3 linked regions of the Homo sapiens genome follow. The protein of the gene in region 1 purifies or fractionates together with the protein of each later gene. This does not show direct contact. Each region holds a gene or a part of one and is shown on either strand. Other genes may lie near its edges.

Region 1 (10,941 bases):
GTAATCCCAGCACTTTGGGAGGCCAAGGCGTGTGGATCACCAGGTCAGGAGATTGACACCATCCTGGCGAACACAGTGAAACCCTGTCTCTGCTAAAAATACAAAAAATTAGCCGGGCGTGGTGGCGGTCACCTGTAGTCCCAGCTACTCGGGAACTGAGGCAGGAGAATGGTGTGCACCCGGGAGGTGAAGCTTGCAGTGAGCCGAGATCGCACCACTACACTCCAGCCTGAGTGACAGAGCGAGACTCTGTCTCCACAAAAAAAAAAAAAAAAAAAAAAAAAAAAAAGAACAGGCCAGGCCTGGTGGCTTGCGCCTGTAACCCCAGCACTTTGGGAGGCCAAAGCAGGTCAATCACTTGAGATCGGGAGTTCAAGACCACCCTGGCCAATATGGTGAAACCCTGTCTCTACAACAAATACAAAAATTAGCCCGGCATGGTGGCATGCACCTGAAGTCCCAGCTACTTGGGAGGCTGAGGCAGGAGAATCGCTTGAACCCAGGAAGCAAAGGTTGCAGTGAGCCGAGATTGCACCACAGTACTCCAGCCCGGGTGACAGAGCGAGATTGTGTCTCAAAAAAGAAAAAAAGGGGCAGGCGTGGTGACTCACGCCTGTAGTCCCAGCACTTTGGGAGGCCGAGACGGGTGGATCACCTTAGGTCAGGAGTTCGAGACCGGCCTGGCCAACATGGTGAAACCCCGTCTCTACTAAAAATATAAAAACTAGCCAGGTGTGGTGATGGGCACCTGTAATCCCAGCTACTCGGGAGGCTGCAGCAGGAGAAGTGCTTGAACCCAGAAGACAGAGGTTGCAGTAAGCCAACACAGTGCCACTGCACTCCAGCCTTGGTCAAAGAGTGAGACTCCTTCTCAAAAAAGAAAAAAAAAAAGAAAAGACGAAAAAATAAATATGGGGCTGGGTGCGGTGGCTCACGCCTGTAATCCCAGCCCTTTGGGAGGCTGAGGCAGGTGGACCACCTGAAGTCAGGAGTTCAAGACCAGCCTGACCAACAAGGTGAAACCCCGTCTCTACTAAAAGTACAAAAATTACCAGGCGTGGTGGCAGGCACCTGTAGTCCCAGCTGCTGGGGAGGCTGAGGCAGGAGAATAGCTTAAACCCGGGCAGCAGAGGTTGCAGTGAGCCAAGATCGAGCCACTGCACTCCAGCCTAGGTGACAGAGCGAGATTCCACATCAAAAAAAAAAAAAAAAATTACGACATTCATTAAAAAGCTAGAACTTTAGCTGGGCATGGTGGCTCACACCTGTAATGCCAGCACTTTGGGAGGCTGAGGCAGGCGGATCACCTGAGGTCGGGAGTTCAAGACCAGCCTGACCAACATGGAGAAACCCCGTCTCTACCAAAAATACAAAATTAGCCGGGCATGGTGGCGCATGCCTGTCATCCCAGCTACTCGGGAGGCTGAGGCAGGAGAATCGCTTGAACCCAGGAGGCAGAGGTTGCTGTGAGCCGAGATTGCGCCATTGCACTCCAGCCTGGGCAACAAGAGCGAAACTCGGTTTCAAAAAAAAAGAGGCCGGGTGCGGTGGCTCACGCCTGTAATCCCAGCACTTTGGAAGGCCGAGATGGGCGAATCACGAGGTCAGGAGATCGAGACCATCCTGGCTAACACGATGAAACCCCGTCTCTAGTAAAAGTACAAAAAAATTAGCTGGGCGTAATGGCGGGTGCCTGTAGTCCCAGCTACTCCGGAGGCTGAGGCAGGAGAATGGCATGAACCCAGGAGGCGGAGCTTGCAGTGAGCCGAGATCGCGCCACCGCACTCCAGCCTGGGAGACTAAGCAAGACTCCATCTCCAGAAAAAACAAACAAACAAACAAAAAACACATGGGGGCTGGCACAGTGGCTCATGCTTGTAACATGAGCACTTTGAATGGTCAAGGCAAAGGACTGTTTGTAGCCAGGAGTTCAAGACCAGCCCAGATAATGTAGTGAGACTCTAATCTCTACAAAAAATATTTGGCCGGGCATGGTGGCTCACACCTGTAATCCCAGCACTTTGGGAGGCCAAGGCGGGCAGATCGCTTGAGGTCAGGAGTTCAAGACCAGCCTGGCCAACATGGCGAAACCCTGTCTCTACTAAAAATACAAAAAACTAGCTGGGCGTGGTGGCATGCACCTGTAATCCCAGCTACTTGGGAGGCTGAGGCAGGAGAATTGCTTGAGGCCAGGAGGCAGAGGTTGCAGTGACCTGAGATTGTGCCACTGTACTCTAGCCTGGGTGACAGAGTGAGACTCTGTCTCAAAATAATACATAAAAATAAATAAACATAAAAAAATAAACTTATAGGCCGGGCACAGTGGCTCATACCTGTAATCCCAGCACTTTGGGGGACCAAGATGGGCAGATCACTTGAGGTCAGGAGTTCGTAACCAGCCTGGCCAACATGGTGAAACCCCATCTCTACTGAAAATACAAAAATTAGCTGGGTGTGGTAGCGGGCACCTGTAATCCCAGCTACTTGGGAGGCTAAGGCAGGCGAATTGCTTGAACCAGGAGGCAGCTGTTGCAGTGAGTCATGATCGCGCCTCCGCCTCCCAAAGTGCTGGGATTACAGGCGTGGCCACCGCACCCAGCACGTGGCTTCTTTTCTTATAAGGGTTTTTGTTATAGGGGCTTCAGCCATGAATCTAAGAAGAAAAAATATTTCTTCCTCCCTACAGCATCAATCTATTAGAATGATGAGGGGAAGAGGGGTTTTGACCCTGTGTTGCCATGGTTCTTTATCAAGAAATGGGGATATTGGGCCAGGCGTGGTGGCTCACACCTATAATCCCAGCACTCTGCGAGGCCGAAGCAGGTGGATCACCTGAGGTCCGGAGTTTGAGACCAGCCTTGCCAACATAGTGAAACCCGTCTCTACAAAAAATACAAAAATTAGCTGGGCATGGTGGCAAGCAGTTGTAATCCCAGCTACTCAGCAGGCTGAGGCAGGAGAATCACTTGAACCCAGGAGGTGGAGGTTGCAGTGACTGGATATCACACCATTGCACTCCAGCCTGGGCGACTCTGTCTCAAAAAAAAAAAAAAAAAAAAAAAGCCAGGTGTGGTGGCTCACGCCTGGAATCCCAGCACTCTGGGAGGCCGAGGCAGGCGGATCACCTGAGCTCAGGAGTTTGAGAGTAGCCTAACCAACATGGAGAAACCCTGTCTCTACTAAAAATACAAAATTAGCCAGGTGTGGTGGCGCACACCTGTAATCCCAGCTACTCGGGAGGCTGAGTCAGGAGAATCACTTGAACCCGGGAGGCAGAGGTTGCAGTGAGCTCAGATCGCAAAATTGCACTCCAGCCTGGGCAACAAGAGCAAAATTCTGTCTCAAAAAAAAAAAAAAAAAAAAAAAAAAAGAAGGATATTGAGGATATGGGAGAAGCCTAAAGCCTCCCCAATCCTCTTGTTGCCACCATTATTTCAACAGATATTTGTCCAATTAATTTGTTTTTTTTATTTTTTATTTTTTATTTTGGTAGAGACAGGGTCTCCCTGTATTGCCCAAGCTGGTCTCCAACTCCCGGCCTCAAGTGATCTTCCCGCCTCAGTTTCCCAAATTGCTGGGATTACAGGCATGAGCTTCCACGTCCAGTCTTAATTTGCTAATGAGAGAAAAACTGCAATAATAATACTTAAGCTACTACATGGCTGGGATGGAGATTTACTGACATCATCTCATATGTACTTGTCAACAATTCTACCAAAGACCTGCTACTATTTACCCCCGCTTTGAGTTGGTTCAACTGAAGCTCAGCGAGGAGTGACCTGCTCAAAGCCACACAACAGCTAAAAAACAGGCCCCGTGTAAACTTCACCCCCTGACAGACAGGGTAAGGAGGCGGCTCCCCAGGGTCCTCTCACCCAGCGCATTCTGGATCTGCACGGATTTCTCCGGGCTCAGCAGGGTCTCATTGCCGTCGTAGGGGGAGCGGAAGCGGACGCCCTCCTCCGTCACCTCGGACAGAGACACCAGCGACACCATCTGGAAACCGCCGCTGTCCTAAGGGAAACCCCACCGCAAAGCTGTCAGGGGGTGGAGATGGGGACCCTTCACTCCAGAGAAGGGCCCTAGAACGTCGGCTCTCTCCTCAGCTCACCGTTAGCAGATTATGAGGCCAATTCATGAAGCCGTGGAGACCGTTGGCTTTCTGGATCAGCTCGGGTCCCTGGGTTGATGGAAGAAAGTGTCAGGTTAGGGGTGACCGCGTCCCTGGGGGCCCTTCTTGGGAGACAGATCTGGCCAGCTTTAGTCCCTGCTGCTCTTTCACGCCCAGTACAAGGCCTGGTCATTGGGGGCGCTCAATACAGCTGGTCGATTGACTTTGGGAGGAGTGTCCGGGCCTGGAGGACGCTCCATGGCTCCCCACGCCTCGCCGCCTCGCCGCCTCCCCGCGCGGGCAGAGCCCACCCACCGGCCTTAGACCCAGATGGTAGGTATTGCCCAGGCAGATGCGGCAACCCAGAGCGTCCAGCTGTTCGGTCGTGATGCCCTTCATGGTGGCCTGCGTGCCCACTGGCATGAACACAGGAGTGGCCACTGTCCCATGCGGCAGCCACAGCTCGCCTGCCCGGGCCCTGGAGCGGCTGCATTCGGCCACCAGCCGCATGATCCGTGGGGCCGACTCCAGGGAAGCCTGGGTAGCTGCTCCCGCCATCTTGACTGTCGGAACCACGTGGGCCGTACCACACAGTGGGCGGCGCCATGTTGGCCGCTGTCACGTGACCACGCGATCCGTTCTGGAGCCCGGGAAAGCGTCGGGGGACCATGGCAACGGATTTGAACCCCTGGTCCTGGCTGGGGGCCCATTTAACTCCTACCCACAACACGCTAAAGCGAAGAATCAGAATTGAACTGGGAACGAATCCCATCCCTAGCACTTTCGAGCTACAATCAGAGACTCTCTTAGCCATAATTTTCTCTTGGATAAAATGTGGCGAATTACAGCATCTCGGCATAAAGACTTTGTAAAGATTGAATAAAGGGCCGGGGGTGGTGGCTCACGCCTGTAATCCCAGCACTTTGGGAGGCCGAGGAGGGAGGATCACGAGGTCATGGGATGGAGACCATCCTGGCTAACACAGTGAAACCCCGTCTCTACTAAAAATACAAAAAATTAGCCGGGCGCAGTGGCAGGCACCTGTAGTCCCAGCTACTCCGGAGGCCGAGGCAGGAGAATGGCGTGAACCTGGGAGGCAGAGCTTGCAGTGAGCCGAGATCGTGCCACTGCACTCCAGCCTGGGTGACAGAGCGAGACTCCATCTCAAAAAAAAAAAAAAAAAAAAAATTAAGCTGGTGTGGCTGGGTGCGGTGGCTCACGCCTGTAATCCCAGCGCTTTGAGAGGCTGAGGCGGGCGGATGACCTGATGTTGGGAGTTCGAGACCAGCCTGACCAATGTGGAGAAACCCCGTCTCTACTAAAAATACAAAATTAGCCAGGCATGGTGGTGCATGCCTGTAATCCCAGCTACTCCGAAGGCTGAGGCAGGATAATTGCTTGAACCTGGGAGGCGGAGTTTGCAGTGAGCCGAGATCGTGCCATTGCACCCCAGCCTGGGTAACAGGAGCAAAACTCTGTGTCAAAAAGAAAAAAAAGTTTTAAAAATTAAAAAATTAACAGGTTGTGAGCCAGGCACGGTGGCTCACGCCTGTAATCCCAGCACTTTGGGAGGCCAAGGCGGGCGGATCACGATGTCAGGAGTTCAAGACCAGCCTGGCCAGTATGGTGAAACCCCGTCTCTACTAAAAAAATACAAAAATTAGCCGGGCGTGGGGGTGCGTGCCTGTAGTCCCAGCTATTCGGGAGGCTGAGGCAGGAGAATCGCTTGAACCCGGGAGGCGGAGGTCGAGCCACGATTGCGCCACTGCACTCCAGCCTGGGCGACAAAGCGAGACTTCATCTAAAAAACAAAAACAAAAACAAAATCAAAACAAAAACATTAACATGGTGTGGTGGCACGCCCCTGTAGTCTCAGCTACTCAAGAAGCTGAGGCAGGAGGATCACTTGAGCTGAAGAGTTGGAGGCTGCAGTGAGCTATGATTGGGCTACTGTACACCAGGCTGGGCAACAGAGTGAGACCGAAACCCTAAAAAAAAAGATAATAATAATATACAATATTATATAGTAATTGTTATCATTACAACTGGATCTGATATCTGTCCTGGCCAGCAGAGAGCGCTATTGTCCCAGAAGATGTCCTTTCAATTGTCTTAAACTGAGCTACTCTGGCCAAGAGGGTGTCTAAGGGAGCCTCAAGCCCCCTATCCTGTAAGAAAGGCTAAGGATGCCGGTTGCCCAGATGGTGGGGCATCCTTAGTAAGGCCACACCCGGAAAACCCGCCTGGAAAACACCCCTGCCCACCAGCAAGCCAACCTCAGGGCCTTTGCACCTGCCTTTGTCTACAACACTCATCCTTTCTTTTCTATTTCTTTTCTTTCTTTTCTTTTCTTCTTTTTTTTTTTTGAGACAGAATCTCACTCTGTTGCCCAGGCTGGAGTGTAGTGGCACAGTCTCAGCTCACTGCAACCTCCGCCTCTCAGGTTCAAGCGATTCTCCTACGTCAGCCTCCCAAGCAACCGGGATTACAGGTGCCTGCTGCCACACCCGGCTAATTTTTTTTTTATTTTTGAGATGGAGTCTTGCTCTGCTTCCCAGGCTGGAGTGCAGTGGCACAATCTCTGCTCACTGAAAGCTCTGCCTGCCAGGTCCACGCCATTTTCCTGCCTCAGCCTCCTGAGTAGCTGGGACTACAGGCGCCTGCCACCACGCCCAGCTAATTTTTTGTATTTTTAGTAGAGACCGGTGTTCACCATGTTAGCCAGGATGGTCTTGATCTCCTGACCTGGTGATCCACCTGCCTTGGCCTCCCAAAGTGCTGGGATTACAGGCGTGAGCCACCGCACTCGGCCGTTTTTTGTTTTTTTTTTTTTTGAGACGGAGTTTTGCTCTTGTTGCCCAGGCTGGAGAGTGCAATAGTGCAATCTTGGCTCACTACAACCTCCACCTCCTGGGTTCAAGTGATTCTCCTGCCTCAGCCTCCTGAGTAGCTGGGATTACAGGCATACGCCACCACGCCTGGCTAATTTTTTTGTATTTTTAGTAGCGACAGGGTTTCTCCATATTGGCCAGTCTGGTCTCGAACTCCTGACCTCAGGTGATCCTCCCACCTTGGCCTCCCAAAGTGCTGGGATTACAGGTGTGAGCCACCGCGTCCGGCTAATTTTTGTTTTTAGTAGAGATAAGGTTTCACCATGATGGCCAGGCTGGTCTCAAACTCCTGACCTCAAGCGATCCACCCATCTAGGCCTCCCAAAGTGCTAGGATACAGGTGTGAGCCACCGTGCCCAGCTAATATTTCTATTTTTCAAAATGTTTACCAGGCGCAGTGGCTCACGCCTGTAATTCCAGCACTTTGGGAGGCCAAGGTGGGTGGATCATATGAGCCCACGAGTTAGAGACCAGCCTGGGCAACATGGCAAAAAAAAAAAAAAAAAAAAAGTTAAAAAATTACCCATAATTCCAGTTACTTGGGAGACTGAAGCAGGAGGATTGCCACAGCGCCTGGCCAATATGTGTTTAAGTCTGCTTCTTGCCAAGCTTTCTGTGTTATTCTGATGCCCACTCGTTTCAGAACCACTGTTTTTCACTCTTGGCTGCACATAGAATTACCTGTGGAGTTTTTAACTATCTCTATGCCCAGACAACTTAAACTAAAATCTATGGTGAGTAGCTTATGTACTTTGGGACGATGAAGTAGGAGGATTGCTTGAGGCCAGAAATTAGAGTCGCCCAGGCTAGGGTGCAATGGTGCGATCTCGGCTCACTGCAACCTCCACCTCCCGGGTTCAAGAAATTCTCCTGCCTCAGCCTCCTAAAGTAGCTGGGATTACAGGCGCCCACCACCATGCCCAGCTAATTTTTTGTATTTTTAGTAGAGACAGGGTTTTGCAATGTTGGCCAGGTTGGTCTCGAACTCCTGACCTCAGGTGATCCACCTGCCTCAGTCTCCCAAAGTGCTGGGGTTACAGGTGTGATCCACTGCACCTGGCCGATCATCTCTTAAAAAAAAAAATCTATGGGGATGAGACTCAGTCATCAATTTTCTTTTGTTTTTTGTTTTAAGCCTCAAGGAATTTCTGTGTGCAGCCAATGTTGCCTCTCAGTGGTTTAGGTTCCAAAAACAGCATTTCATTATCTTATCCAAAGTGAGTCTCTTTCTTTTCTGGGTGACCTTATCTTGGAGCTCTGACCTGCCTGCAATTCTTGGTTATCCAAAGCTTCTGGGATGTTGGAGGGAATCCTCTGCATTTTAGAATGCAATCACCATGATTGGATGAATGGCTGATTGGATTAAGGGTTGCCTGGATTTGCTGTTCTGAAGCTAGTATAGCCCCTTCTTTTCTTGGCCACCTAACACCTGACCCCGCTCATACACCCCTGCATTGAGAGAATGTCATATTTTTTAAGGCTAAGCCTGCCTTTCCATAGAAGTTATAATTGACAGTTACTTTCCCAGCCTGCCCTGCAGCCAGGCTGCACAAGGCTCAGGTTCTGCCATTCACAATTTGGATCAAAAGCCAGTGGTGGTGGCCGGGCACAGTGGCTCACACTTGTAATCCCAGCACTTTGGGAGGCTGAGGCGGGCGGATCACCTGAGGTCGGGAGTTTGAGACCAGCCTGGCCAACATGGAGAAACCCCATCTCTACTAAAAATACAAAATTAGCCGGGCATGGTGGCATATACCTATAATCCCAGATACTAAGGAGGCTGAGGAAGGAGAATTGGTTGAACCTGGGAGATGGAGGTTGTGGTGATCCGAGATCGTGCCATTGCACTCCAGCCTGGGCAAGAAGAGTGAAACTCCGTCTCAAAAAAAAAAAAAAAAAGAAAAAGAAAAAGAAAAAAGCCAATGATAAGGAGAAACAGGCCCTTGGGCTCGAAAACACTAGGGACAGGAGTTGGAGGCAGCTACATCCATGTCACAGAGATTCATGAAAATAAGAACAGTTTATGTCAAAACTGAAGCTACACTCAGGAAGTTTATAGGTGGTTGCACATCTGGTCTCCAGCCACAGTAATCCTTGTAGCATCAACTACAGTCTCTGTACTTAGTCATTGTGAGATTGGGCTATGTGTGGGGTTGGCGTTGGGGTACCACCACTAGCTGTGTAGCCCCTGATGCTGGTTCTCTGCCCCTCCTGGAGATCACTGTGCCACCTGACATTCTTCATTACACACTTTTCAAGCATAGACAAACGGACAGAGAATTGCATAGTTATCACCTTGTAACCAATGACCCAGCTTCAACAATTATCAAAAGAGGCTTAATCCACCCACTTAAACAAATATATTCTAGTCCGGATGCAGTGGCTCACGCCTGTAATTCCAGCACCTTGGGAGGCTGAGGCAGGTAGATCGCTTGAGCCCAGGAGTTGGAGACCAGCCTGGGCAACACGGCGAAAACCTCTGCTGTACTAAAAATACAAAAATTATACGGGCGCAGTGCTGCACACCTGTAGTCCCAGCTACTCGGGAGGCTGAGGCAGGAGGATAGCTTGAGCCCGGGAGGTGGAAGCTGCAGTGAGCTATGATCGCACCACTGCACTCCAGCCTGGGCAACAGAGCAAGATCCTGTCTCGAAAAAACTAAAAATAAAATTATATACATACATACATATAGAGAGAGGTCAATGTGTTCAGTAGGACAGGATAGTCAGGGCTGGGCTCACTGAGACGGTGGGATTTGAGCCTGAAAGGAGGATGGAGGAGTCATGCGGAATCGGAGAGAGCACTCCAGGCCTCGTGAACAGTTAAGAGCAAAGGCCTGGAGGTGGGAATGTGTCTGGATTGTCTGTTGTGAGCGCGGAGGTCAGTGTGGCTGGAGGTGAGCGGATGAGGGTGTGGAGGTGACGGCATGAAATCGCGGGAAGCCTTGGGCTTTCCTCTGAGCTGGATGGGACGGTAGGGCTTTCTCAGCCAACGTGGAGGGAAGTGGGCTCTACCTATTACCAAGAGATAAACTGGGGATAGGGCGCAAAGGAGGCTTAGTGGTCCCTGCTTTAGGGTGTTGGCACCGCCCACTTAGGAGAGCTGGGGGCGCCGTGAGCCTGCAGCTAGAGGCGGCGCTTGGTGTGCGGCTTCAGCACAGTGGACAGCGCCGTACGCGTTGCCTGGAGACCAGGAAAGCGGCCGCTCAGGGAGCGGAGCCTGCGCAAGCGCCCTATGAGGAGCGGCGCGCTCCACGCAGTGGCACACTCTGTGGGGGCGGGGCCTGCGAGTCCGGCCAATTAGAAGAGTTTGTTGCCGGGCGTGGTGGCGCTTGCCTGTAATCCCAGCTACTCAGGAGGCTAAGGCGGGAGAATTGTTTGAACCAGGGAATCAGAGGTTGCAGTGAGTGAGCGGAGATCGCGCCACTGCACTCCAGCCTGGGCGACAGCGAGACTCCGTCTCCAAAAAAAAATTTTGTTGACAACCCCAGGACGAAGAGAGTTTATACACAGGGCAGGGCCTGCGAAATCCCATCTGGAGTTGGAGCTTGTTGATTGCGCAAAGGAAGGAAGGAAGGGGCGGTGGGCACCCGGAGCCTAGAGACCGGCGGGAAGTTTGGAAGCGGTGGTTTGCAGCAGCTAGGCCTGGGGCGGTTTCCGCGCTCTTCACATGGAGGCTTGCGCAGCACCCAGGGTCGTGACTGGGGCTGTCAGATCCCGAAACTTGCCTTCTCTGGGATCGCCCGCGACTGCTCAGGGGAGCCCCCAAACAGGGGACTATATGGTTGGCCTTAGGGAGCGGGTGCTGAGGTCCTGGGTCCAGGATACGGACTTCTGAGCACTGACTGAGGAATACAGAACATTCAGGAGAGGAGAGTTAGGGGTTTTGCTGAAATAATGGTCCTTGGAGCCCTGAGTTCGGGTGGTCGTCTCGATAGCC
Region 2 (10,514 bases), on another chromosome or scaffold:
CAACAAAACAGTGCAAAGCTCTGCTGTCAACTCTGGGCAGAAGCGTTTTGTGTTGCCTTTGTTCTGAGTCAAGAAGTGATACCCGGCCTCTAGGGAAAACCTAGGGAAGGGCATCTCTCAATGATGCCATGACATGAAAACACCTGGAAACCTGTTTCCCAAAGTCCAAATATAGGTGTGAATTTCTTGAACACCTAATCTCAAATGACATCAAGCATGATTCAGCATACGTAATGGTATCATGAATACATAATGAAGAAGCAATGAATTATTGACAGATGAAACAGAACTGCCACCAAATGAAACGTAGAACACAAATGCCTTATGCGTATTTTACACAGCGCATGTATTTTATATGGAATGTGGGGTCAGCAGATTTATTTTCTAAATTCCCTCAAGAAGTTAAAGTCTGAGTGGGTGCTCCCTTTTTAGCTATCTGTGACTTCCCCATGCTTATTCCTTTTTTTTTTTTTGAGATGGAGTCTCGCTTTGTTGCCCAGGGTGGAGTACAGTGGCGCAATCTCGGCTCACTGCAACTTCTGCCTCCTAGGTTCAAGTGATTCTCTTACCTCAGCCTCCTGAGTAGCTTTGATTACAGGTGCCCGCCACTATGCCCAGCTAATTTTTCCATTTTTAGTAGAGATGGGGTTTCACCATGTTGACCAGGCCGATCTCAAACTCCTGACCTCAGGTGATCTGCCTACCTCGGCCTCCCAAAGTGCTGGGATTATAAGTGTGAGCCACTGCGCCTGGCCCCCCCCATGCTTATTTCTTTGATGCTTAGTCATGTGCTAAAACTGGGTTTTCTATCAGAGCAACAATACCCTTAAAATATATATGGTGGCCCTAAATCTATGGGGATAAACTCGATTTAAATATATACAAAGTTTTTGTTTTGTTTTTGTTTTCGTTTTTTAAGAGATGGGGTCTCACTCTATTGCCTAAGTTGAGGGGCAGTGGTGCGATCATAGCTCACTACAGCCTCGAACTCCTGGGCTCAGGCAGTCCCCTCACCTTAGTCTCCCAAATAGCTGGAACTACCAAGCCTGGCTTAAATACGAGTTTTTAAAATAAAGCATATAGCATATTCTGTACAGTTCAGGTACAGGAAAAAAGGTTACTGCCACCTGTGAAACAAATGTGAAAGGCTCTGTCTGCACATCTATGAATCCTCCCAAAAGGCATCCTTATTGTACACCTTCAACAAAGATTACAAAATATATTTTATAATATATCTTTACAGATATTGACAATAGTGGGTATGTCAGTGACTATGAACTTCAAGACCTGTTTAAGGAAGCAAGCCTTCCTCTGCCTGGCTACAAGGTGCGCGAGATTGTGGAGAAAATTCTATCAGTTGCTGACAGCAACAAAGATGGCAAAATCAGTTTTGAAGAGTTTGTGTCAGTAAGTAATCTAATCCTTTCGGGCTACTGATAATCTTGCTTAGAGCAGAATTGTAGTAATGTCATCACTAGCTTTGGTTAAATCCAGCTTCAGAGACCAGAAAAAGGACTGCTTTAAAATGATGATGATGATGATGACAATAACTATTATTATCGAAATAATTTCCACAACTAATTCATAAAACAAAGGAAAAAATTATTCTCAAATTGTTGGAATGGAAATCAGGTTTAGATAATAGTAATTCATTCCCTAGAATAACTAGGTGAGTTCAATGCTTATTGACCATTAATATAATTGAATAAATATTTATGAAATATAAATTGTCTGGTTTTGCATTCTTTATTGATTAAGCAGGTATTTTAGCTCTTCTCTTCCTAGAAATTTTGCTAGGCACTGTGAGTAATGTGATGAGTAAAAAGAAACGTGATTCCTGTCTTCATGGAGTTTATATGTGTGGAGAAGACTGCATTGCACAAATTGATAAAAGATAATTGGAGAATTGCTATGACAGAGTGGTACAGGTCCTGTGAGAGTTTGTGGTAGAAGGAATTGAATTTGGAGGCAAGGCTGGATAACCCAGGGACTCAGGGAAGGTATCCCTACAGTGTGAAGACTGTGATGTGTTCTGAAGAAAGATGTTAAACAGATAAAAGTGGGTTGTGGGAAAATGAATAATGTAGGAGGCAGGTAGACATGACAGCATGTGTAGAGTCCCTGTGGCTTTAGAGATGGTGAATATTCTCAAGCAACTGAAAGAAGGTTTGTGTGACTGGAGCTGAGATGGTAAGGGTAAGGAATGTAGCTGGAGAAGTAACTCAGAATCAGGTCACACAGGGCCATGTCGAATTTTTGTTTTTATCCTAAAAGCAATAGGAAGACAATGAAGTGGGAAGAATAGAATGTGAAGTGACAAGATCAGATTTGCATTTAAAAAAAAACCCAATCACTTTGCTGCAAGCAGAACTGATTGAATTGAGTCTTGCCAATCTCTGGTGAGTCCAGTGAGAGAGTGATTGGGAAAGGGAGTTTCTGTAAGCCTATGTTATTTCCTCTAAGAGCTGACTTATTTTATCATGAATGCATTTGAGATGTTCAGGCAGGAAAATATCTTCATTAAGGCATTCTTCTATCTTTAGCATGTAGTTAGTTATTTCTTAGGTTTTCAGTACAAAAGATTATGGCAAGCCAAGAAGAATAATTTCAGTGTGTTCAATTTAAGCTTAGTTATAAAAAATTTATTCCACCGTTTGGGGTTCAAGTATTTGTCTATTTTGTGTTATTGGTAAAATGATGAAAGTTATCTGTGTATACAAGCAATAAGTACAACTGACTAGTATTTAATTTGGTGTCATTTCAAATAAAGAAGTGTAAATAAATATCCATTTTGTCAGGTTTTTATTGATTATCTGATTCTCAATTTTACTTATGTTCCATTCCAGCTAATGCAAGAATTAAAAAGCAAAGATATCAGCAAAACATTCCGAAAAATAATTAACAAGAGGGAAGGGATTACTGCTATTGGAGGAACTTCAACTATTTCCAGTGAGGGCACACAGCATTCTTATTCAGGTAACTGACTTCTCCAAATTTGATCTTTTAGTCACTGATTCATTGATTAAGTGACATATTTAATCAGTTCTAAGATGCCACTCATTGTGATTCATACCGTTATTTTATGTGCCACTGAGGAGAAAAAAATACTGCAGACCACAGTATAACATGCCATTGAATTTGAAATACATCTCAGTTTCACAGATGTCAAAATGAAAAATCCTAGAATCATTGAAATCAATGAGTTCCTGCTGTGTATCAGGCTCAGTCTACAGAAACAAGATTATAAACAACAAAGTGGAAGTTGTTTATACTCCAGCATTAGATGTATTTAAAAGTGGCTTTTCAATGGCTTTTCATCCTGACTGATGAGGTGGCTTTACTTTTAGACCTGAGCTAGGAATGGGGGAGAGGCTTCTATCACAAGGATTTTTCTCTTCCATTTTCTGAGATCTGAGATACCCGATTCACCTTTTATCTAGTAACCAAGTGACTAGAGAGCATAGCACCTGATTTGCTTGATCTGATTAAACCACTGGACCATTGCCCAGTGGGAAATGCAGAAGCATATCAACTTTTAAGATGAGGTGTCTTCCCCGTGTTAAGTTATCTAAGATGTCTAAGAACCTTTGGCCAAGTTCTTTTTATTTATATGAACATAACTAGAACTATGCTTTTTGGCCTTTTGACAAAATTACCTGTAACCTTTTCCCCTCTTTCTTCATTTCAGATCTGAATCTGTTAATTATCCTCTTGATTCTGTCCCTTCCTAATTGGATTTTCCTCTAGCGATACACTCAAATTTCTCTCATCTATTATATGTTTTTCCTAACTTTTTCCCACTAGGGAAGCAGCCATAAAGGCAAAGGTCCATAACTGTTACCTTCACTTTTTGAAAGGTATTCACCCCTTAACCCAGTTTCTGCCTGTCAATTCTACTGAAGTGGCTTCTTTTTAAAGACAAAAAAAAATTATTAAGGTATAATACACATTCAGCAAAGTGCTATAATCTTAAGTATATGGCTCAATGAATTTTTCCATGTGTATATACATTCATGTAGCTGCCAACCAGAACAAGACATGGAATCTTTTCATCACCTGAAGACTCCCTCATTCCCCTGATAGTAACTATTCTTCCCTAGAGGTAACCTCTTTTCTGATATTTGTCACCATAAATTTTTGTTTACTTATTTTTTGAGGTATAAGATACTTGTAGTAAAGTGCATGAAGTGTACTTTTTTTTTTTTTTTTTTTTTGAGATGGCGTCTCGCTCTGTCGTCCAGGCTGGAGTGCAGTGGTGCGATCTCGGCTCACTGCAAGCTCCACTTCCCAGGTTCACGTCATTCTCTTGCCTCAGCCTCCTGAGTAGCTGGGACTACAGGTGCCCGCCAACACGCCCAGCTAATGTTTTTGTATTTTTAGTAGAGTCAGGGTTTCACCGTGTTAGCCAGGATGGTCTCGATCTCCTGACCTCATGATCCACCCGCCTTGGCCTCCCAAAGTGCTGGGATTACAGGCATGAGCCACCACACCAGGCTGAAGTGTACTATTCTTAAGTATATGGCTTGATGATTTCTTTTAACCTATGAATACACCTATATAACTATTCTCTAGAAAAATATATGGAATATTTAATGGCTTTTATAAAAAATAGCAGCTTTATTGAGATATAATTGACATACCATGGAATACATTTTTAAAGTATACAGTTCAGTAGTTTTTAGTGTATTCATAGTTGTGCAATTGTCATCACTATTTAATTTCAGAACACTTTCATTACACCAAAGAAGAACACTATATTCATTATCAGTCACTCCCCATTTCCCTCTTCCCGAAGGCTCTGCAACCATTAAACTGCTTTCTATTTCTACAAATTTGCCTATTCTGGAAGTTTCATATAAATGGTATCATACTGTAGTGGCCTTTCATTTGACAGGCTTCTTCACTGGTGTAATATTTTCAAGGCTTATCCATGTTGTCACATATATCATACTTCATTCCTTTTTTTCTGACTGCAGCCTCGACCTCCAGAGTTCAAGGGATCCTCCCACCTCAGCCTCCCAAGTGCATAACCATGCCTCCCAAATGTGTACCACCATGCCCAGCTAATTTTTCTATCTTTTGTAGAGATGGGGTTTTGCTATGTCACCCAGGTTGATCTTGAACTCCTGGGTTCGAGCGATCTGCCTGCCTTGGGATTACAGGTGTGAGCCATGGTACCTGGCCCCTTCATTCCTTTTTATTGCTGAATATTCCATTCTATGGGCAATACCACATTTTGTTTATCCTTTCATCAGGTGATGGACATTTGGGTTGTTTCTAGTGTTTGGCTATTATAAATAATGCTATATGAACACTCATGAATGCATTTGTGTGTGGACATATACTTTGAATTCTCGTAGGCATATACTTAGGAGTAGAATTGCTTGAATTTTTGTTAACTCTATGTTTATCATTTTTAAAGAACTGCCAAATTGTTTTCCAAAGTGGCTGCACTTGTGAGGGCGATCTGGCTGCGACATCTGTCACCCCATTGATTGCCAGGGTTGATTTGGCTGATCTGGCTGGCTAGGCAGGTGTCCCCTTCCTCCCTCAGTGCTCCATGTGAGTCCTTCCCGAAGCTGCGTGCTCGGTTGAAGAGGACAACCATCCCAATAGAAGAGGACTGGTCTTTGGTCAAGGGTATACGAGTAGCTGCACTCCCCTGCTAGAACTTCCAAACAAGCTCTCAAGGTCCAAAGTGGCTGCACCATCTTACATTCCCACCAGCAATGTATGAGGGCTCCAGTTTCTTCAATTCTCACCAACACTTGTTTTTGTCCATTTAAAAAATTACAGCCATCCTAGTGGTTGTGATGTGGTATCTCATTCCTGGTTCCTATACCTGAAACATCCTTTCTTTCCTTGCCTATATTCACCTATTGAAAAACTATATTTCAAATAGTACCTCCTCTATGAAGCCTTTTCTTGATCACCCTAACTAAAAGTGATTGCTTCTTTTTTTAAATTCTGCAAACATTGCATATATATTTCTGGTGGTGTGTGTATTTCCCTTATATCACATTTCTTTGTATATTTGTTTTACAATTACACTAAAAAATTCCTCAATGGCAGATACAGTATTTTAGTGATCTCTGAATTCCTAGACTCCAAATCCTTCTAAGGAGGTGTGTATGAGGAGGCGAGAAGATAAGGCAGATTATGATATGTACAAAGAGGAAATATTAGTACATATTTGTGTTTTTGTTGACTTGTGTGTGTATGTATGTGTGGTGGATTAAATTTTGGGGGTACCTGCAAAATATTCCCTTGGGAAAATTACTTAATTCTAGGAACTGGGGCAACAATGGAGAAGGCCAAATCATTATGTGCTACCCTCTGATGGAAATGGGGATTATTTACTTTAAGGATTTATAATCTTAAATGGTTTTTATATCTACAGAATAATAATAAAGTTGTACAATGTTTTTACTTTAAGTTCCTTCCTATTTTCCCCACTGCATAACCCAACAAAATTTTCTACTTAAGATCAATGTACCCATACTAGAAGCCATGTGTTGAGAAGTTGTTGGATGAAGATGGCCAAAGATAGTGCTGGTATCTAGATTTGTGTCAATTTTTTCTTCGTTTTTTGTTTTTTTGAGACAAGAGTCTTGCTCTGTTGCCCAGGCTGGAGTGCAGTGGCGTGATCTCGGCTCACTGCAACCTCCGTCTCCCAGATTCAAGCAATTCTCCCTGCCTCAGCCTCCAGAGTAGCTGGGATTACAGGTGCCTGCCACCACACCTGGCTAATTTTTGTATTTTTTAGTAGAGATGGGGTTTTGCCATGTTGGCCAGGCTGGTCTCAAACTCCTGACCTCAGGTGATCTGCCCACCTCAGCCTCCCAAAGTGCAGGGATTACAGGCATGAGCCACCGCACCCAGCCAATTTGTGTCAATTTTTTAATAGTTAAATTCCATTGAAATTGAGCTGTTTTATTCATTTGAATAACTCTTGACTGAATTCAGTATTTCTGTTGTAAGCTAAAAATCACAGCTCTCTAAACCTTTTGGGGAGGATGGGATTTATTGCCATGGTATTTGTTTCTTGTATTTTTTTCCTTATTTAATTAACATATACATATTTGACCTCCGATGGTCTGCTTCTGACTCATTAGCTTTCAGAAGCAATACATATTTGGAAATATTTTTGAATCAAACCAAATATATATTGTGCTCATTTAAGATATATACCTTCATCTCTCCTAATAGATCAGTTTTTTGTTTGTTTTTTTGTTTGTTTTTTGTTTTTGTTTTTGAGACAGAGCCTTGCTCTGTCACCAGGCTGGAGTGCAGTGGCGCGATCTCGGTTCACTGCAAGCTCTGCCTCCTGGGTTCATGTCATTCTCCTGCCTCAGCCTCCCAAGTAGCTGGGATTACAGGCCCACGCCACCATGCCCAGCTAATTTATTTTTGTTTATTTAGTAGAGATGAGGTTTTAACATGTTGGCCAGGATGGTCTTGCTCTCTTGACCTCGTGATCTGCCCGTCTCAGCCTCCCAAAGTGCTGGGATTACAGGCGTGAGCCACCGTGCTCCCCGTTTTTTTTTTTGAAAGGGTCTCTCTTTGTGGCTTAGGCTAAAGTGCAGTGGCAGGATCTCCACTCACTGCAACCTCCACCCCCCGGTTCAAGCAATCCTGAAGCCTCAGCCTCTCGAGTAGCTGGGACTATGGGCATGTGCCATTATGCCTGGCTAATTTTTGTATTTTCAATAGAGACGGGGGTTTCTCCATGTTGCTCAGGCTGGTCTTGAACTCCTGACCTCAAGTGATCAGCCCGCCTTGGAAGTGCTTTGGGAAGTGCTGGGATTACAGGCGTGAGCCACCACACCCAGCCACCTTTCTTCTTTTCTTGAACCCTTTTGTGTTTTAGTAGATTTGTAATAATGGTCAATTATTATCTTTGAGCAGAAATTAACAAGTATGTTTTTGTAGTGCAATAGCTATGTATGTTTTTATAGTGCAATAAAGTTTGTGAAATGAGATTTGCCTACCAAGGTTTTCTCCTTTCAGAGGAAGAAAAAGTGGCTTTTGTTAACTGGATAAACAAAGCCCTGGAGAATGACCCTGACTGTAAGCATCTTATACCCATGAATCCCAATGATGATAGTCTTTTCAAGTCACTTGCAGATGGCATCCTTCTTTGGTGAGTTGAACTTCTGGTTAAGGAAGCTGCGTTCTTGCTGATTACATTGATGAGCATTCCATGAAAACTCCAATTCAGCTGTCCATTGTCTTTTGGAGTCAGTAGCTACTTAGGTCATGAGGAATTTATATTGCATAGAAAATGAACTACTGTATATCTATTGGAAAATTTCCAAAATTTTCCTTCAAATACAATCCCTTGTTTTTCTGTTGCCTTTTACGTGTATTACTATAATAATTGCCAGGAATCTTTTGAGTTATTTGTCTGATGCAGTTTTAAATATTCGCAGGGTTTCTCTTTTCTTTTTCCAGTAAGCGAGTATTGATTATTGACTGGAATGGGACATGAGGAAATGTAAAGGGAAGATATTCCTTATTTGTACCTAAATGAAAATAATGTTTTGATTCAGCCTTGTGTTATCCTTGGCTCTTTGCATTCTATTTTTTCTCACTATGTTGTAAACTCTCTGAGGGAATGTCTTTGTCATTGTTGTGTGTACCACAGTCCCAGCATACTTCTTTGGACAAAGCAGAGGTCTTTTCTTTAGTTTATAAAAAGTACAAAAGATTTACAAAGTAGAAAATAACCATCAAAAATATCCTTACCACCCATAAATGACTTATTAATATTCTAACACATTTCCTTCAGTCTTTTTTTTTATGTTTTTACTTAAAAAGGAAAACAAAACCTTACCCATAAGTACAGGATATTAGATTTTATGACATTAAATATAAAATATACCTTGACCTCCACCTACAATTCTTATCTTTCTTTGACTCTCAGAGAAATTCCTATTATGAACCAAATGGGTATTTTCCTATTCTTGTTTTAAAAGGTAAAATTCTAAAATATAGAGACAAAATTTATATTAATTTCTCTGAAAATGTCTAAATTATTGGTCTTAGATGAAATCTCTGGCTTCGTATCTTTCTGCAACAACAGTAATTTTAACAGTGTTGATACTACTTTATGAAACTTGGCTTCTTGGAGAATTTCTTTGTTTTAGGCTGCGGAATACTGATGATCATTAAGTGAAATAAAGACAAAACTAACATAAAGAAAATTCAGGGTGATGACTGGGCGTGGTGGCTCATGCCTGTAATCTCAGCACTTTGAGAGGCTGAGGCAGGAGGATCACTTGAGGTCAGGAGTTTGAGACCAGCCGGGCCAACATGGTGAAACCCCATCTCTACTAAAAATACAAAAATTAGCTGAGAGGTGGCACACACCTGTAATCCCAGCTACTCGGGAGGCTGAGGCAGGAGTATCACTTGAACCCAGGAGGTGGAGGTTGCAGTGAGCTGAGATCACACCACTGCATTCCAGCCTGGGTGACAGAGGTAGACTCCCTCTTAAAAAAAAAAGAAAATTCAGGATGGTTAAAAAAAATTAGGAGAAATGCTTAGATTACTATTGCAGTGAGTGATGGATTTGTTTTAGGAATGGGAATATTTCTTGGATTTTAAGAATTAAGTTCCGGCATGAATTATAGTTTAATTAATTATTATTATTATTTTTTGAGATGAGGTCTCTCTGTTTTACACAGGCTGGCCTCAAACTCTTGGGCTCAGCCTCCCAAGTAGCTGAGATTATATGCATGTGCCACCATGCCTGGCTTACTGTTTAATATTTTAAAGTAATGAATTGTTATTTTCAAAATTTATCTATTTTGGCTGTTTGCAATAATAAACTAAAAAAATTTCTTGGAGTATTAAACTAAATTATTCTCATTTTCTCTTTAGCAAAATGATCAACTTATCTGAACCAGATACAATTGATGAAAGAGCCATCAATAAGAAAAAGCTCACGCCATTCACTATTTCTGTAAGTATTTGCCCTTTGCTTATTATCATGTTACTATGCTGAGAAATATAAGACCTTTATTAATGAATGCTTGGACCCAGATAAAACCTTTGATTTAATTGTAATGCTATTCTCCTATAAAAACTTTTTTTTTTGGAATCCTTTTTTTTATTTTTATTTTATTTTATTATTATTATACTTTAAGTTTTAGGGTACATGTGCACAATGTGCAGGTTAGTTACATATGTATACATGTGCCATGCTGGTGTGCTGCACCCATTAACTCGTCATTTAGCATTAGGTATATCTCCTAAAGCTATCCCTCCCCCCTCCCCCCACCCCACAACAGTCCCCAGAGTGTGATGTTCCCCTTCCTGTGTCCATGTGTTCTCATTGTTCAATTCCCACCTATGCGTGAGAATATGTGGTGTTTGGTTTTTTGTTCTTGTAATAGTTTACTGAGACTGATGATTTCCAATTTCATCCATGTCCCTACAAAGGACATGAACTCATCATTTTTTATGGCTGCATAGTATTCCATGGTGTATATGTGCCACATTTTCTTAAT
Region 3 (10,727 bases), on another chromosome or scaffold:
AAGATGGAGATACGAATACTCTATATAGCCTAGGTCCCAGCAGTATTATATATTTTATACACACATATACATCCACCCTAGAGAAATATGTACAAGATTGTTCACAGCAAATTGTTTATAATAGGAGAAATAAGGTTTCCCAAATATCAACATTAAAATAGTTCAATTGTGGTACTGTCATATAGCAAGGAACACGAACAAATGAGTTATGTGCAATCACACAGATGAATCTCATAAATGTGTTAACTTAAAACAGTTGTGTGACAGATGTTGGCCAACGAATGCATACGGTTTGGTTCCATTTGCAGAGAGTTCAACAAAACAAAACTAAACCTTAGTGTTCAGGGATGCATGCTTATATAGTAAGCTATAAAGAAAAGGAAGTAATTACCAAAAAAGTTAGGAAACAGTAATGTCGGGAAAGGGGATGAGAATAGGTATGATGAAGAATGAATATACGTGGGACTCTGGGGGCTGACAATACCCTATCTCTTGGCCAAGATGGTGGTTACGAGAGTGTTCATTTTATCATTTATTGACTTTACATTTACAGCACACACTTTACATACGTTGTATTTCATATGACTTAGAAAAAGAATATACATATACACATACAAACATATTTGCATAAAATATCCAGATTACAGAAGAAAACTAGTAACAGTTGTTTGCAGGGAGGGGACCTGAATGAGGAATTAAGGGACAGAGAGAAGGTAGAGAAAGACTGTTTACAGTCCTAGTTTTCAACTTCTACAATCAACCAGAGATAAAGCATGGAAGATTTAATTGTGATAAGATACAAATGTTATTAGCTTTGACAATGTCAAATTACTAGATAACACAAATTGATAGCTAGATGTGAACTAGAAAGGGAAAAGGGATACATGCACTAATAGTCATACTTTACAAACTGGGGAGTCAAGGAATACATTAAAAATTGGACACAACAACCAAAGACATCCTAGTATGTTATATAAACTGTAAAGGTAAAGAAACTAAAACTAGTGATACAACTACCAAAAATCAGAAAGACAGCAGGGGATTTATGGGGTTCTACAGGTTAGCCAAATCTTCATTTATCACAGCAGGAAGTCAATACATACCGTCTACAGCTGACAAACCAATGGGTAAGCATATTAGTTAGAAATAAACGTAACCACCAGAAAAGCTCAAAACACAAACAAAACAGTGGGTGGACGGCAGCTGTACTTCATTATAAGCCATTAGGTAACGATTTGATTTTCAAGTATGGATATGTATTATAAAAACGAAAAAAATGTATTTACTTAGACCATACACACCTAAGGACATAAGAACATTTATTTTACCCAGTAAAAAATAATATAATGCAGACTGAATCCACAGGGGCTATGATGGCTAACATTCAGATCTACCAATGTAGGACAGAGCAAAGGGATTCAATTACAGAGATAAATGAGGATGAAGGCAGAGGATGAAAATAAACACACCAATCATTCAATAAATGGCCATTTATTAAAAATCCAAGCTAAGCACTATGCTGTGATAGAGGCTAGAGTGGAAAACTACATAAGACCACCCCACTTCTATTCCTAGTACCCTCCAGTTTATTTTCCCCAGGGCAGCAATGTTGTGCACTTAAAATACAAATCTGATCATATCACTCATGTCTTTGAAAAGCTGGTAATTAAAAATGAAGAGGTAAAGTAGGCTCCAAACATTTTTGACTGCAGAACTTACAGAAAGTCTGTCACAAGGAGTGCCTGCCTTAGGTAGGACTAACAAAAGTTAATTTTAAGAAAAATGAGTAGGTGGAAAGAGAGGCTGAAGAAAAATCTGCAAATTAAAAGAATGCTCAATAGTCTAGACATAGAGTTGGCCATGGTAGTCTATCTATCTAATAAGACATTTAAAAAATATCTATCAAAAGGACCAGGGGCCTAGGTTGACAGGGAGATGCAGAACAAAGGAGTAAAAAAGAGTGGAATAAATCAAGATATTTCTAAAGGTAATAAGGCTTGAAGGAGGTAATGAGAACACCCTGGGAGAATAAGGATACATGGCTTTTGCTAAGCTATTCAATCAAAATACATGTGTCGCTCAACAACAAGGATACATCCTGAGAAATGCATCACATCTTCAGGCGATTTCACCACTGTGTGAACACCATAGAGGGTACTTACACAAAGCTAGATGGTATAGCCTACTACACACTTAGTCTACAGGGTATACCTATTGTTGTCAGGTTACAAACCTGAACAGCATGTTACTGTACTGAATACTGTAGGCAACTGTAACATGAGGATAAGTGTATTTAAACAAATCTAAACATAGAAAAGGTAATGTATTTCATTAGGATGTTATGACCACTACCTCACTGGGCAAAAGGAATTTTTCAGCTCCATTATAATCTGATGGGACCACCCTCATGTGAGCAGTCCATGGCTGACCAAAAAGTTATTACGCAGCACATGACTACATACGTGTAGTGAAGAGTAAGCTGATCAGACTGAAGAATTAAGTAGCAGAAATCGCTCTGAGGCTAGGTAGCTAAAATTAGGTATTTCAAATATTTTCTTTTTTAATGACAAAATTTAGTTAGTACACAAGTTAATCCATGACTCCTAAAAATACAGACAAGTACAAGTCTTATTGCAGCAAAATAATCACTTCACACAGATTGTTGAAGAAAAAAGAACAAGCGGTGACCCTTTAAATGTTAACAATTGTTTCTGATCTGTAACATGATGAGGGGGGGCAAGCCTGACATTTAGGGATGGCGATCAAAGTAGGAATCGAACTTTCGAATTCATCTAACTCCACTGGGATCTTTATATTCCCTCCTATTTCTTTATGGTTAGCAATTTTCAGGTAGAAATTTTAATTCCCCAAGGGAGAAAACTGAACCTCACTAGGTTTAGCAAGTTACTTTTTTCTATCCTAATAGCAAGTGCGGAGAATTATCCCTACACAAACAAGAAGCAGGCATCCGTTTTATGAGATTTTGAATTTCACATCAACATGCAAAAGACAGGCGGAAATGATTGCCCACTGAGAGGGAACTCACCTTCCAGAAAAGCAAATTCATCCACAGCTTCTATTGCATTATCTGAAACACAAGGAAAAGAGACACCTGACTAACTTCAGCCATGCTGACCTCAGTCAGAAAACAGCACAATCTGCAGTGAAGGGCATGAGGCTTTGGGCAAATGAGGGCATTTATAAGATGCGTCCCTTGCTGCCTTGAGATCCATATCTACTCTACCAGCAACTCTTATATATATTAGCTGTCTCCCTAGAAGAGTTAAGAAAAGCATAGGCAAATACCATTCAACGCGGGGGTTGGGGGCCTCCTAAATTACCCCTAAATTATTTATTCGCTTTGCTCTTAAAGTTGTCAGAGAAGAACGTGGCAATAGACGCAGGGCGCATGAGAATACGGTATACGAAATCTTACCCAGGTGAGGGTTCCCAGCCAGACAAGAGTCAGAAATCAAATCCCCAGTTGCTAGGTGAAAAAGAAATATCTTTTTCTGGTGCAATTTGGCAGAAGGTATGAAGGGATCCAGTCCGCTACGGCAACCCCAGACACCTTCACACACTGCCCCGCCACCCCAAGCAGACAGCCTCTACAGGTAGGGCTTCCTGGCACTGTGGCCAACAGAAACCATCCTGGGGAGAGACGCTGTGGCACCTCTCAGATCAGAGTGACGTCTTCTCAACCTGCACAAGGGGAAACCAGCCCAGCCCTCCCTTGTCTGTCCCCAGACACTGCAGTGCCACTCTACCCAAGTCTCTCCTCTGAAGGGTTTTCCTTTTTCCCTGCTGAGCGCAACAGTAGGCATCTTTTGCAATGGTCTCCACAAACAGTTCCTGTGAAGTAAAAAAGCAAAGTTTTAGTAATGGGTTCTAACACACTGAGGAGGTGAGGGCTCCGGTTTGTGGGTGGGGGCAGAAAGGGAGAAGAAAGGCTCGGGGCAAGAAAATGTTCTGGAAGCTAAGATTGTCCTGGACTTCATGAAGATCCATTCCGCTACCCTCTTCCCAGTATTCTCCCTCATTCACTAAAGACTCCTACAAGTTCTGTACGAGGCCCTGGAGATACAAATTAAAGTCACTCACTATCCAGGTCCTCAACAAGAGGGAGGAGTGTTAACAAAACTCGCACAGGTCCCCGGCCCCTTTCCTCCGCCTTCCGGGTCCACGCCCACATCTCAAAACCCGGGCCACGCCGCCCTAAGCCCCGCCCGCGGGAGGCCCCGAGGCCCCGCCCCACACTCCACCTCCCCCACTCCCGCATGCCCTCGCGCTGCAGGCGCACCGCGGCTCGTGCCAGAATGAAGATGGCTTCCTGTCCCGCTAGCGTCACGTCGGGATCTGCCTTCACCAAGGCCTTCACTCGCGCCAGAGGCAACCTCGAGAGACGAGCCCCAGGCACACTCGTTGGGGCCTGGGGCTGCGAGGCCGCTGCCTCCCCAGCAGGTCCCTCCTCCTCTCGGGGCGTCCCGCTTCCTGCCGCCGCCGCCGCCGCCATCCCGGCCTTGAGCGTGCTGCGCGCGGCCGCCGACTGTGCGCGCGCATGCGGCGCAGGCCCTTTCCCGCGCGGGCTGGAGGCCACACCCTGTGTAGGCGCGCGGCTCCGCCCCTACGCGGCAGTGCGCTGCCAGGAAACCGGGTGGGCGGGGGTCGGGCTCCGGCTCTTCCCACGCGCCTAGCCACCCGTGGGCTGTCGTGCACTTGGTTGACGCTACCGGCGACCCTCTGGCCCCGACGGGCCTGTGGAGCCCAGGCACCTCCCATTGGTGCCTGTGCCTGGCTGGTGAGGGGAGAAATCTAGACCAGGCTCGCAAGAGAGTCTCCGTCAAAACAGAGTGTGCATATTCCAAGGCTAACGAGGGCACGTGTCCGAGGGAGGCCCGGCCCTGGAGGGCCCAGCATCGTGGAAGAGGGTGCCAAGGAGGCAGCGAAATCTGGACCAAATTCAAGGATAACCAGTTATAGATGCTCTTGAAGGAGGGGTAGGGCTTTTGGCAGGCAGAAATGAAGAAATTCAGCCCAGCCAGAGGAAACAAGAAAAAGTCATGGAGGCTAGAAAAGATGAAATTGTGGTGGTGAGGCATCCACGTTTGTTCAAAAAGAGGTTGCATCACAGCTTTGGTTCTCAAATTTGACCTCAAGATCCCTTTACGGTCTTAAAGATTGTTAAAGAGCCCAGGGAGCTTTTGTTTCTGTCAGTTATATCAATACTTACTATATTAGAATTAAAGTTTTAAAATATTGATTTAAAATTACTAATGCGTTACCAGCTAACAAACAACATTTTTATGACAAGTAATTTTTTTTAAATCTAGTAAGAAAAGTCTCTAATGTCTGATTTCATGTGAGAACTGGATTCTCTAGCTGCTTCTGTTGCTAACGTTAGCACTTCTCAGGTAGCTCTTAAAAAACTACTACATCTTGAGAGAATGTGAATGAAAAAGGCAACCTCATAGTAGTATTAAGAAAATAATTTTGGCCTCATGGACTCCTGAAAAGGGTCTCCAGAAAATTCCCACCCCCATGAATCCCCACACCACACTTGGAGGTCTGATAGCGTAGAGGAACAGTTAATATTTAAAATAGGTTTAATCTAAGTCAATCATAATAATAGTGAACACCTTTAAACATTTACTATGTGCATGATTCAAAGTGTTTTAGATTTATGTAAATCATAACTTCTGTAATTTTCACAATACCCTATTGAGGTAAATATTATAACCTTCTTTTTCAAACCTTATTTGAAAAAATTGAGGTGCAGAGTGGTTACTGAGTCGCATACACAGGGCAGAATGTGGTGAAGCCAAGATGAAGCTGAATTAAACACATCTGAAATCACTCAGTTCCAAAATTATGTAGTAAACTCTGACTGGTGTAGGAGTGGAAAGGTGTGAAACCTTTCTTTACCCATTTTAAGGGTCACAGCTGACACTCCTATAACACACACAAAAAGCCTAACAAGTCTAATCAAAGTTTTACATGACATGAGAGTCCAAAAATGCAGACCATGAGACCTAGAGGAAACTATTTTTATGCTTAGGTTATATGAAGAAGGGATCGCTGTGTAGAAATGTGATTAGAGGCCTGGTACGGTGGGTCACACTTGTAATCCCAACACTTTGGGAAGCCAAGGCAGGAGGACCGCCTGAGCCCAGGAGTTTGAGACCAGCCTGGGCAACAGATGGAGACCCCATTTCTACACACACACACACACACACACACACACACACACACACACACACAAATTAGCTGGGTATTGTGATCCTATAGTCCTAGCTACTTGGGAGGCTGAGGTGGGAGAGTTGCTTGAGCCCAGGAGTTCAAGGTTACAGTGAGCAATGATTGCACCACTGCACTCCAGCCTGGGCGACAGAGAGAGACCCTGTGTCTTAAAAAGAAAAAGAAATGGGATTGGACAAAAAGGGAATGATAATAGTCTAATGGTAATAGACTGAATGGGGAAACCCAGCAAGGCCTGTCTGTTCATATTCTTCTTGGCCTCCCTGTGTAGCATTCCTTCTGGTATTAGGGCAGGACCCTTCTGGAATGAGGGTCTTCAAGGGAGAAGGCAGAAAATAACCTTTCTAGGTTTTACGACTTGCTTGGAGGAAGGAGAATTCTAGTTTCTATGACCTGCGTTGGGAAAGAGGAATTCTGGTTTCCATGACTCACTGCGAAGAGTGGTGATGTTACAGTGGGTAGCTAGTCAGACACGAACAGGGCAGGATAGGGCCCCCACGCTCCACCAGGAATGTCAGAAGATCATCAGGTGATGGTCAGACAGTGGTCACACCGCCTCTCTAAAATAATAATTGCTCATAGCCAGCGCCAGGGAAAGGCAGTTTCCCTATAGATAGAAAAACCCTGAAACTGATGATCAGGAGCTTCCTGATGAGATCTCAGGAGTTGGGCGAGCGGGCTCACGCATGCACACTAAGAGGCAAAATGGTGGAATTTAACTGATATATGACCTTCTGGGGGCATTCTACTGAAAAAGGGAAGAACGCCTCAGGTGAGCATGCTTACAACTTCAATAAATACACTGCACTTGCTCCCCTCCCCAGCGCTAGCAGGCTACTGTGCATTTCGACAACCCACCCCAAGGGAAGAATCAGGGTAGAAGGGATGCAAGACCCCAGAAGTATGCCAACACATAAAAACCCAAGTCAAAAGGTCAAACCTTGCACTTGTCCTTCAAGTCACCCACTTGGGCCTCTTCTCAGTGTACTTTCCTTCCTTTCGTTCTTGCTCTAAAGCTTTTTAAGAAATTTTCACTCCTGCTTTAAAACTTGCCTCAGTCTCTTCTTTTGCCTTATGCCCCTCAGTCGACATCTTCTGAGGAGACAAGAATCGAGGTTGCTGCAATTTGCTGCCAGTAACTGTAATAACTTCTACTGCTTACAGTGGAAAACAGGACAGGAGAAGTTCAGAAAGACCTTGCTTCTGAGGCCTTTCCAATTTTCTTCAGTTCAAAGTACTCAGCATTCCAAAGTACCATACTTTGGGGTATCATGTAATGAGCCCCAACCCTGAATTAGCACAGAGACACTCCACTATAGCAGAATAAGAGTCTTGGCCCAGAATTAAAATCTGCAGAAGAGGATATGAGTTGCTGAAAATTGAACCAGAGCAGCCATTAGGGCCTCAGTCCTGGGTTCTTTTCAGATTACATTTATGGACACTCTCACTCATGGAAAGCTCCACACAAAATTCATAAAAGCATGACCAGATTCTTGTGTCACAGTGCACAAGAACACCTCACAAGAGCTATACTCCAGCAATCGCAAAGTAGCTAAGTACTAAATTGACCTAAATTCTGAATTAACATAAGACAGTTGACAATGGTGGGGGTGTTACTGGACCCCACCACTTACCCAAAGTTAGCCTTTGGGTCAGGGGTTTCCTTGCTAGAGTCCTTTCGTGGTCACCAGAAAAATGTTACAGGAAAGGGGTTCTGATCCAGACCCCAAGCGAGAGTTCTTGAATCTCACACAAGAAAGAATTCAGGGCAAGTCCATAAAGTAAAGTGAAAGCAAGTTTATTAGGAAAGTAAAGGAATAAAAGAATGGTTGCTCCATTGGCTGGGCAGCCCTGAGGGCTGCTGGTTGCCCATTTTTGTGGTTATTTCTTGATTATCTGCTAAACAAGGGGTGGATTATTCATGTCTCCCCTTTTAAGACCATATAGGATAACTTCCTGATGTTGCCCTGGCATTTGTAAACTGTCATGGTGCTTGTGGGAGTGTAGCAGTGAGGACGACCAGAGGTCACTCTCCTGGCCATCTTGGTTTTGGTGGTAAGTTTTAGCTGGCTTCTTTACTGCAAACTGTTTTATCAGCAAGGTCTTTATGACCTGTATTTCGTGCCAACCTCCTATCTCATCCGCTGACTTAGAATGCCCTAACCATCTTGGAATGCAGCCCAGTAGGTCTCAGCCTCATTTTGCCCAGCTCCTATTCAAGATGGAGTTGCTCTGGTTCACACACCTTTAACGGGCAGGAGGAGTTAAGAGTTCTTGAAAGGGCTGAGTCAACTTGGCTTTCAGAGGATTCTCATTTCAACCCCCTTTTCTTCCCAATTTTGTCTCATTCATATGTTCCCTGCCTTTCCTCCTTTTCTCCTTTTTTGTTCCCCTTCGTGTTCTTTTTTTTTTCTTTTCTTTTCTTTTCCTCATCACTTGAATGTCTCACCACTTGGTGCAGTCCTTCTCTCCCTGGTTTGACTATGACTAACCAAGAGTTTATGGAGACCAGACAGGACTTCCTGACTATAAGTATTGAACAGCACTAAGGTGTGTTAGAAAGGGAAATCACGTTTCACAGTTTTTGAGTTTCAGTGGAAAAAAGGCAGAAGAAACAGGAAGACGAAGGTTGAAAAGCTCAAAAAGCCACACACGCACACACGGTTCGCATTCCAGTCCAAATAGAATGAAGGCTAAAAATATCTTTAAAAGGCTACGTGATGAAAATTAATGCAAAAAAAACATGATGTGTGTTAAGTGAAGTTTGGCCTAAAGCTGTCTCTTTACATAGTTTAAGTTTGGCCTAAAGGTTTCTTCATATGTAGAGAAATGCAAGGTAACTTGATGTGAAAACGGTCACTTACTCTTGTAAGAAATAGCCAAGTTTCAGCCAATTACAGGCAGCCAGCTGCTCAAACCAGGTTCAAACCAGGTTCAAATAAGGCAAACATCAAGCTGTAACCGTTCCAGCTATTTCTGTACCTCACTTCCATTTTCTGGACATCATTTTCCTTGTTATCCTACCATGCGGCAGGCCTAAAATCACACTGAATCTATTCTGGTTCTGGGGGCTGCCTGATTCGAGAATCATTTTTTGCTCAGTTAAACTCTGTAAAATTTAACTTGTCTAAAGTTTTCTTTTAACTTGTGAAGTATTTTATCTAATAAGCTAAAGATTAAAGACAGCTTGCCATCTACCATACTGGAGTAAGTGTCCTATCCAGGAGATAAGTTAGTGGAGGAACCAGTATCACTTCATTTCTGAATTTTTTTAAAAAAAAATCATATATGTGTTGTATGTACACGTGTGTATTGTTAAAAGATAAACCTAGGCACATTAAAATTTTAAAGAGTTGATTTGAGCAGATAGTGATTCATGAATCGGGTAGTGCCAAACCACAGCTGGGTCTGGGCTCCACTGAGGCAGGGGGAGGGGAGATGCTTTATAAAGTATTTGAGGAACAAGACAAAGAAAATATTTGATTGGTTAAAGTAGAGCAGTAGCCATAAAGTTCCTAGTTAGAGGTGAGTTGGCAGTGATAACAGAATGGCTGGGCTCTCAGTTAAACCCCACCATTAAGCCTGGAACTACAGCCCTAAGTGAAAACAGCTGACCCATTTTTCTACCTGAATGTTGCCTTTTTGGCCTGCCACACCCCTATCCTGTGCCCATAAAAAAACTTTAACTGGCAGAGCAATACAAGCAGCTGAGCGTCAGAGATACAAGCAGCTGAGCGTCAGGGACACAAGAAGCTGGGCATTGAGGATACAAGCAGCTGAGCATCAGGGATACAAATGGCTGAGCAGAGAAGCAACTGAGCATCTAAGACTACAGACAGATGTGGCTAACTTCAGACAGTGCAGCTTCAGGCAAAGATCTTCTTCTCGCACCATCCCCTTTCCAACTCCCCATTCTGCTGACAGCCACTTCCACTTCCATCACACAATAAAATCCTCTGCATACGCCAACCTTCAATTCATTCGTGTGACGATTCTTCCTAGACACTGGACAAGAACCCAAATGCCAAGAGGACAAGGGCTGGGACACTCCTACAGGGCCCTGCACAGAGCCGGCTCCCGCCAGAGAGGAGCAACCGGCCAGTTCCAGCATTAGTTCACTTTGGTTCCTGCACTCTTCTTGCTCACATGCTCCCTCTCATGAGGAGTGGCCAGTGGCAGGCTGAATGAAATGTGCTACTCCAGTTCCCTCCCACAAGGTCAAGGAAAAAATTCCAGCTCAACAGTTTCTGACTGGTTAAGCTTAAGCTTTGTTTTCCTGCAATATGGCTGTTCACACTGAGTTAGGTTTCAGTTTGGCCGTATAGAAACCCGAGACAGTGGAGCCATCTCAGCCTAATGGCCTCCCAATTATTTATTTTAACAGGGCATCATTTTATCTATATTTGTGCATGAATATATATGTGTACATAAATGTATACATATACAGACACATATTTGGAAGGTTAATGATT

Evidence for each region.
Region 2: the proteins of QTRT1 (region 1) and PLS1 purify together in Homo sapiens (affinity purification with mass spectrometry; 3 studies listed by BioGRID and IntAct, with this or other methods). This does not show direct contact.
Region 3: the proteins of QTRT1 (region 1) and POLE4 purify together in Homo sapiens (affinity purification with mass spectrometry; 2 studies listed by BioGRID and IntAct, with this or other methods). This does not show direct contact.

The regions. Positions count from the first base shown.
Region 1 is NC_000019.10:10,695,189-10,706,129, reverse strand, and holds the start of QTRT1 (queuine tRNA-ribosyltransferase catalytic subunit 1), read right to left. Parts: upstream 4,692-10,941; 5' UTR 4,670-4,691; coding exon 4,427-4,669; intron 4,181-4,426; coding exon 4,112-4,180; intron 4,015-4,111; coding exon 3,876-4,014; intron 1-3,875.
Region 2 is NC_000003.12:142,668,147-142,678,660, forward strand, and holds part of PLS1 (plastin-1), read left to right. Parts: intron 1-1,243; coding exon 1,244-1,407; intron 1,408-2,846; coding exon 2,847-2,976; intron 2,977-8,010; coding exon 8,011-8,143; intron 8,144-9,885; coding exon 9,886-9,967; intron 9,968-10,514. UniProt on the Homo sapiens protein: Actin-bundling protein. In the inner ear, it is required for stereocilia formation. Mediates liquid packing of actin filaments that is necessary for stereocilia to grow to their proper dimensions.
Region 3 is NC_000002.12:74,952,466-74,963,192, reverse strand, and holds the start of POLE4 (DNA polymerase epsilon subunit 4), read right to left. Parts: upstream 4,551-10,727; 5' UTR 4,514-4,550; coding exon 4,301-4,513; intron 3,853-4,300; coding exon 3,768-3,852; intron 3,089-3,767; coding exon 3,047-3,088; intron 1-3,046. UniProt on the Homo sapiens protein: Accessory component of the DNA polymerase epsilon complex. Participates in DNA repair and in chromosomal DNA replication.